Homo sapiens: one gene and its partner. The protein of the gene in region 2 purifies or fractionates together with the protein of the main gene of each other region. This does not show direct contact. Each region holds a gene or a part of one and is shown on either strand. Other genes may lie near its edges.

Region 1 (3,500 bases), on a different chromosome or scaffold from region 2:
ACTCTATGCATAATGCAAGTTTATCCCAAATTATTTCATTTACAAATGAACATCTGGAGTACATGTTTATAAATTCAGGAACACACACATACACATTAGTAACAATTACTTGAGCACTAACTATGGTGTAGACACATGTTGAATATTTTACATGCATTATCTTCTTTAATCCTCACAACTACCGTATCAGATAGGTATAGTTATTATACCAGTATACCACTGAGGGAACTGGGGCTGAGAAAGGTTAAATAAAAACTGTTCAAAGTTACAAGATATAGGAAAGGCTGAGACTTGGTTCTAGGTCCATTCGACTCGAGGTCTAGAGTTACTGCACTTCTATTGCCTCTATATAAAAATCCATTCTGGATAAAACAGTATTTTTTGGTTAGAATAAAACAAGGTTAAAGCAGAAGTGATACAATGGCAGGAACGTTTTGACTCTCTAGTCATACAGAATAAATGGATGGTTTCTTAATATATATCACAAAATTGGTAGAGAAAAATATAGTGATGGTGACCTCTTTCTCCATTAAAAGTAAAATAAATAAATAAAAGTTTAAGTTTCTAATTCCTAAGAAAAAAATTTCTTCAAAATTTAAGAAGGATGAGAAAAACCTGCTCTGAACCTAATTTTGAACAAATAAATAAGAATTGAAATAAAAGTGACAGGAAAAAGTTACTGGGCCATTTATTGGCTGGCCTTGCCAAGAACAAGAATGTTAGGCATTCACGCCTGTAATCCCAGCACTTTGGGAGGCCGAGGCGGGCGGATCACGAGGTCAGGAGATCGAGACCATCCTGGCTAACAAGGTGAAACCCCGTCTCTACTAAAAATACAAAAAATTAGCCGGGCGTGGTAGCGGGCGCCTGTAGTCCCAGCTACTCGGGAGGCTGAGGCAGGAGAATGGCGTGAACCCGGGAGACGGAGCTTGCAGTGAGCCGAGATCGCGCCACTGCACTCCAGCCTGGGCGACAGAGCGAGACTCCGTCTCAAAAAAAAAAATAAATAAATAAATAAATAAATAAATAAAATAAAAGAATGTTAGGCATGTTTGGATATACAGTCTAAACCAACATTTTTTTTTTTTTTTTGCAGGGGAGGTTCAACATGTTTTGATGATATGCCTATCAATTAAAAAAAAAGTCTGCATGACTTCCAAATAGTATACATTAATAAATTATATACCTTTGCAACTATACTACCATATTATGTACATCTGTAAAACATACTCAAAATATAAATTAAAGAATGAGATAAAGATTTTTCATTTAAAAACTTTTATTTGGTACCTCCTCCACAGCAGACATTTTGTGCCTACTGGGGACAGCACTAGGAACAATGTTCCTGATCTTATGGAGCTTACATCTTAAGAGGGAGGGACCAGGGAGACAGGTAGCAAATAACTATGTCTGTTAGCAATAAAAAACTGTAAACAAAAAAACAATATATGAAGATTGGGAATAATAAAAGGCTATTTAGATAGGGTTGTTAGGGAAACTTGAATGTTAGATGATATTAGAGCAAAGTTAAACATTTATTTAAAAGATGAAAAACAATATTTTCAAACATCTTGCTAATTATGATGCTTTCACACCACCATTTACTATTATCTCAAGGCACTGTTAGGGTGAAGTTCATTTTTAAGAATAGTATATAGGAATCTATATTTCAAATAGTCTTCTTGTCTCAGGTCCAATTAGACTGTCATTGTTTCTACACTGAATGTCATGTGAATGATGAAATAATACGCCATTTCTTGGAGTAAATGGCATCAGCTTTTTCTTGTGGTTCATCATTTGATATTGGTGTTACCCTTGATTTGGTTTTCACGGCAGAATCTTTTTCAAAGTTTTGTCCATGTTTTGAGGATTTAGTTAAAACCTGATAATAGAATCTATAAATCCAGTTAATTGGGCAAACATAAACAATAATATATTATTGAGGAAGGGTGCTTGTCATTCCCTCTACCTTGTGTAACTCCCACTCTTTTTTTCAGGATCCCTTAATGTCCCGTGATATGTAACTGACATTGGGCCCAAGCATAGGGGACAATGCCAATTTATATATTAAATATCAGTAAAATTTATTTTTGTATTTTACTTAAAGTACATATAAATAAAATACCTAATATTTTCTTCCCATACCCCAAAATAGCATCTTCAAGATGGACCCTAGGATATTAAAAAACCTCACTGTTCTAAGTCTTCAGAAAAATGGGTTTGGGAAAAGCTTAGATGAAAGCTGATAAACTCGTGACACGGAACTCCTAAAAGAGAAGAGTTTGGATAGGCTTGTAAAAATGAGACTGTACGGATCTTTTTTTTTTTTTTTTTTTTTTTTTTGAGACAGTCTTCCTCTGTACCCAGGATGGAGTGTAGTGGCACGATCTTGGCTCACTGAAGCCTGTGCTTCCCAGGTTCAAGTGATTCTTGTGTTTCAGCTTCCCAGGTAGCTGGGACTATAGGCGTGCGCCACCATGCCCAGCTAATTTTTGTATTTTTAGTAGAGACGGGGTTTCACCATGTTGGCCAGGCTGGTCTTGAACTCCTGGCCTCAAGTGATCTGCCCACCTCTGCCTCCCAAAGTGCTGGCATTACAGGCATGAGCCACCACACCCAGAAAATCAGTTCTTTAAAAGGCTACATTTACAATATACTAATAAGACAGTTCCTTTGATTAAACACATATTTACATATGTATATTTTGCTCAGTGAAAAACCAAAATGTTAATTGTGGTGACTTTAGCAGTGATGTTACTTTTTGCTTCTTTATATTTTCTAATTTTCTACAATAATTATGCATTATTTGCATAATAAAGGTTTAAACAGTGTTAAATAAAAGTACACATACAAAGTTGGCAGGTGATAAAACCAACTAAAGAATATAATAAATCTTTAAGAACAACATAAGGATAAATCCAGAAGCTTTCATAAGCCAAGAAAAGCTTATAAAAAGTGTCAGAAACACTCAAAGTGATATTTAAAGCTATATTCAAGGCAAGAATGCAGAGATCTATTCTTGTAATGGAAAGAAAGTAGAGATAAGGTAAGAAACTAGAGAGCATCTAGTTGTGCATTCTGTGTTCATATCTCTTTCTCCAGCTCATTTCACATGGCCTAAAGAAAGGAAAAGTTGTGAATAAAATTAGAGAAAACATAAAAACAATCTTCAGGACACCTGAGATGTGCATGTGTCTTGACTTTCAAAAAAGAAAGAGAAGGCAAATTGCAAGAAATTTATGTTTTAAAATAAGGAAGTTGGTAGGTCATGACCATACCAAAAATATAATAGTCAAGCTTGCCTCTACTTATAACGATTCAGTTGTAATTAACTGCATATTGACATTTTGAAATACGTCAAATAAATATGTGTACAAGTATACATACAATCATCATAGATTCAATAGCTACAAATACAGATGACACAGGTTGAGCATCACTAATCCAAAAATCCAAAATTCTCCAAATCTGAAACTTTTTGAGCACTGACATCATGGGCA
Region 2 (4,044 bases):
TGTTTACATTTTACATTTTTTACATCTGTCCAATTATAGAAAAAGTTCGGCAACTCTAATATAGAGTGTTTTCTGAGGTATTTTGTAAAATCAAAAAGGGAAGGTACAGAAATGGTATACAGCATGCTATTTTTTAGAAAAGAGAAAATAACAATATATGCATAAAATTTCTCTGGATATTTCTGAGAGGAAAACTGGGTGACTAGGGGGTGGGAGCATCATTTCCCAAGTATATCTTTTTTATATTTTAATTTTTGAATTAAATTGATTCAAATTGATTTTAATTATCTATCCAAATACTTAAATTTTTATGAATTTTGTAAAGCATAATCTCAACTTCAAAATTAAGCTAGAAATCAATCTTCATCTGTTTAAAGTACAGACAGTCCCTGCTTTATGAGTTTTTGACTTTACAATGCTGTGAAATCAATACACATTCGGTAGAAACTGTAATTCAAGTGCCCATACAACCATTCTGTTTTTCACTTTCAGTAGCATATTCAATAAATTATATGAGATATTTAGCACCTTATTATAAAACAGACTCTGGCTTAGATGATTTTGTGGGTTATGGTAAACATTCTGAGCACATTTGAGGTAGGCTAGGCTAAGTTATGATGTCGGGTTAGGTGTATCAAATGCATTTTTAACTTATGATATTTTCTATTTAATGATGGGTTTATTGGGATGTAAACATTGTAAGTCATGGAGCATCTATATTCAATATTGATAGGAAGCCTTAGATATAGCAGCAGGAGTATTTGTAAACAAACTTCCTGGAAATTAATTTGGTGTATATATAAAGAACCTTTTAAAAGTGCATGCCCTTTATATACCCAATAATTCCACTTCTAGGAATCTGCCCTAAAAAATTTAAAAGATCAGGCAAAGACTTATGTAACAAGATGTGTAAATGGTATAATTTATAGTGGTTGACAAAATTATAAATAGTCTAAATATTCAATAATAGTAGAATAGATAAATAAAATATGATACATTAATATGATGGAATATTGTATAACTATTTTTTAAATGGCGCTATTGGGGTATATATAATGCCATGAGGGTATTTTACCATATCATCTTAAGTTTAAAAAGAGAAATAAACAACTGTATATGCAATTTTATTTTCTTTTTAATATATATGCATGGGAAAATGCTGGAAGTAAATGTATCAAAATGTTAACAGGTATTATCTTTTTTATTTTTAATTTGTATGAGTACATAGTAGGTATATATATTTATGGAGTAAAAAATATGAGATATTTTGGTACAGGCATGCAATGTATAATAATCACATCCTGATAAATGGGGCATCCATCCCCTCAAGCCTTTATCCTTTGTGTTACAAACAACCCAATTATACTCTTTTAGTTATCTTTAAATGTACAATTAAGCTATTATGGACTATAGTTCCCCTTTTGTGCTATCAAATACTAAGTCTTATTCATTCTAACTTTTTTTTGCACCCATTAACCCACCCACCCTCCCTCCCACCCTCCCCTACTGCCCTTCCCAGCCTCTGATAACCATCCTTCTACTGTCTATCTCCATGAGTTCAATTGTTTTGATTTTTAGATCCCACAAATAAGTGAGAACATGTGATGTTTGTTTTTCTGTACCTGGCTTATTTCATTTAATAGTTCATTGTCTTTTAGTGGTAGAACTATGGGTGTTTTCATTTTCTTTGTTCTGTCTTTCCGAACTTCTTGCATCCTCCCTGAAATGAGTATATACTATTCACATAATTTGAGCAGCGGTGAGTGGTGGAGAGGGATGGTGATTGCTTTTTCAAAATAAGTATGGGGGAAGGGCATACTTGCCTTCTTCCTTCCATAGTAGAGCAGCCTAGTGAATTTCTCCACGATCTGCGCAGGTGTCTCCACACTGGGGGGGATCTCTCCCGTGAGCAGGTTCGGGGTCCCAGAGCTCAGCACTGGCCAGTCCTCATCGGTCAGGTTGATGAGGTTGGCCACAGGGGGCTGCCGCTTGTACTTCTCCAGCTTCTTGCAGTCTTGCATTAGCAGCTCAGCGATGTCAGACCCCACCATGGACTGTAAGGCAAAGAGGATCATCTGGGGAGAATCCTATGAGTCCTCAGGCTGGCAGCCCCAGCTGGAGAAGGAAGGCACCAGGGAGCCTGCCTTCTTCACATGGAAGCCAATTATGCAAACATAAGGCAGTCCTTTGTTAGATTGCTATATTTCAGACTTCAGCATCACTATCATGGTTATTTTCTGCCTGTCAGGAGCCATAAAGCTTACCAGAAACATTCACAATTTCACAGGTATATTATCTGGCTGGTGCAATAACCCAGAAACTGTACAATTTTCCCAGACCAAGGAAGAAGATCATCAGGGAAGATCTGCGTTAGCAAACTCGCATTGACATTTGAGCAATTTTTTCCCTTGGGGCAATTTGTGGCTTCTTTAATATTGCTTTTCATAATCATGTCATAAACATAATCTTATCTATCCCATGAAGACTTAAATTTCAGCCTGCACCTGCTCTCCCACCAGAACAGAACTTACCCCATTCTGGCGACAAAGGAGAACCAAGAGCTGCCACAGTAGAGCTGAGTCTCTGCTCCCCAGTGTCTCAGATTTGCAGCTCTGAGCTGCTTTCTGCTGGCAAAACGTCATAATATCCACCTTATGTACATCTTCCCTACATGGAAAAAATTTAGGGAGCAAAGAGTGAGCAGGCAGACACTTCCCTGTTTCGGACCCCAGGCTCCTCCTAAGTGTGCAAGTGCTGGCTGGGCTGTGATTGAGATAGAAATCTGACAAGCCAGGGCTAAGGTAATGAGTCTATAGCTATAGGATAGTTATTTTCTTATAGAACAAGAAGAAATTTCAGAGATTCTCTCATGCACCCCCTTTATAGATGAAGAAACAGAGGCTCAGAGACCTGAAGTCACTGCACAGGAAAGCAAGTAAAAGCAGACTTTGGAGTCAGACAACCCTGGATCTAAATCTGGCTCTGCCACTTCTCTGTTTAGACAAGTTTCTTACCTCCTCTGAGCCTCAGCTTTGTCCCCTAAAATAGGGACAGTAAAAGGACCTACCTCCATACAAAAAGGAATTAGAAAATTGTGTGGCATATATTAAGTGATCAATATGATTGGCATTATGATTTGCTCAAGATTATCCAATAACATCAAAGCCAAGTTAGGCTTAGTACCCCAGTGTTTGAATACCCAACTCGCTTTTTTGCCCCATATCTGTATACCTGTTTGTAAGAAAGAGATAACACTCATTTTTACTTGAGGGAACCGTCAAATGCCATTTGAGGAATACATTTATATAGTAGTGATGATACTTTCCATGTGCATAATCTGACTTGAGACTCATAGACAAGCCTCGGGTAGGGAGAGCAGGTGTTATACCATTTCTCAAGGGGAAAACTAAGGTTCAGAGAGGGCTAACTGACCTGTCCACCATGGTATTCCTAGTCAGTAAGACGCCTGAGCCTGAGACCCACGTGGGCTGTCATCCAGCAAGGACTCTCTCCTCAACAAAGATGCCCTGAGTTACATTTATCAGAAATATAACTAGACATTTAAAAGCAGTCCTAGTTCAGTACTGCAGAGGGCTCACTTGCACACTGTTCTGTAACTTGAACACTGCCGATCTTATTTACCTCTCCAGGAAAAAGCCACTGTTACAAGAATTGTTTCTGCTATGATCCACTTGTCAGTGACTTCCCAGGCGATGCTCCACTTTTCTACTAACATCTATCAAGCACACGGAATGCTAAAACTTCCAACCATGCAGCCTCTGCATAATGGAACTGGTTTTAGATTTCTAAACTGTCATGCTAATTTTTCTTTCTGTCCTTCAACTATTGAATGGCTTGTCAAAATGACTCAGGCCACATCTGGTTCTATCTTGCAGCACAGAGAATTCCACTCCAACAAGGACAGATATTTTTTTCCAAGGAAACCAAGAACAAATCTCCAAAATGCTGATCTGGGCAGGAAGATTTTCTAGGTTTCAAAAGCCCTTACTCAGCAGCTCTTACAGCACTATACCTAATCAAGGG

Evidence for each region.
Region 1: the proteins of SEC16B (region 2) and SLC25A31 purify together in Homo sapiens (affinity purification with mass spectrometry; one large-scale study listed by BioGRID and IntAct). This does not show direct contact.

What each region holds. Positions count from the first base shown.
Region 1 is NC_000004.12:127,733,400-127,736,899, reverse strand, and holds part of SLC25A31 (ADP/ATP translocase 4), read right to left. Parts: intron 1-3,500. UniProt on the Homo sapiens protein: ADP:ATP antiporter that mediates import of ADP into the mitochondrial matrix for ATP synthesis, and export of ATP out to fuel the cell.
Region 2 is NC_000001.11:177,956,309-177,960,352, forward strand, and holds part of SEC16B (protein transport protein Sec16B), read right to left. Parts: coding exon 4,034-4,044; intron 2,668-4,033; coding exon 2,532-2,667; intron 2,055-2,531; coding exon 1,824-2,054; intron 1-1,823. Other genes in the region: CRYZL2P-SEC16B (protein transport protein Sec16B), read right to left, coding at 1,824-2,054, 2,532-2,667, 4,034-4,044. UniProt on the Homo sapiens protein: Plays a role in the organization of the endoplasmic reticulum exit sites (ERES), also known as transitional endoplasmic reticulum (tER). Required for secretory cargo traffic from the endoplasmic reticulum to the Golgi apparatus.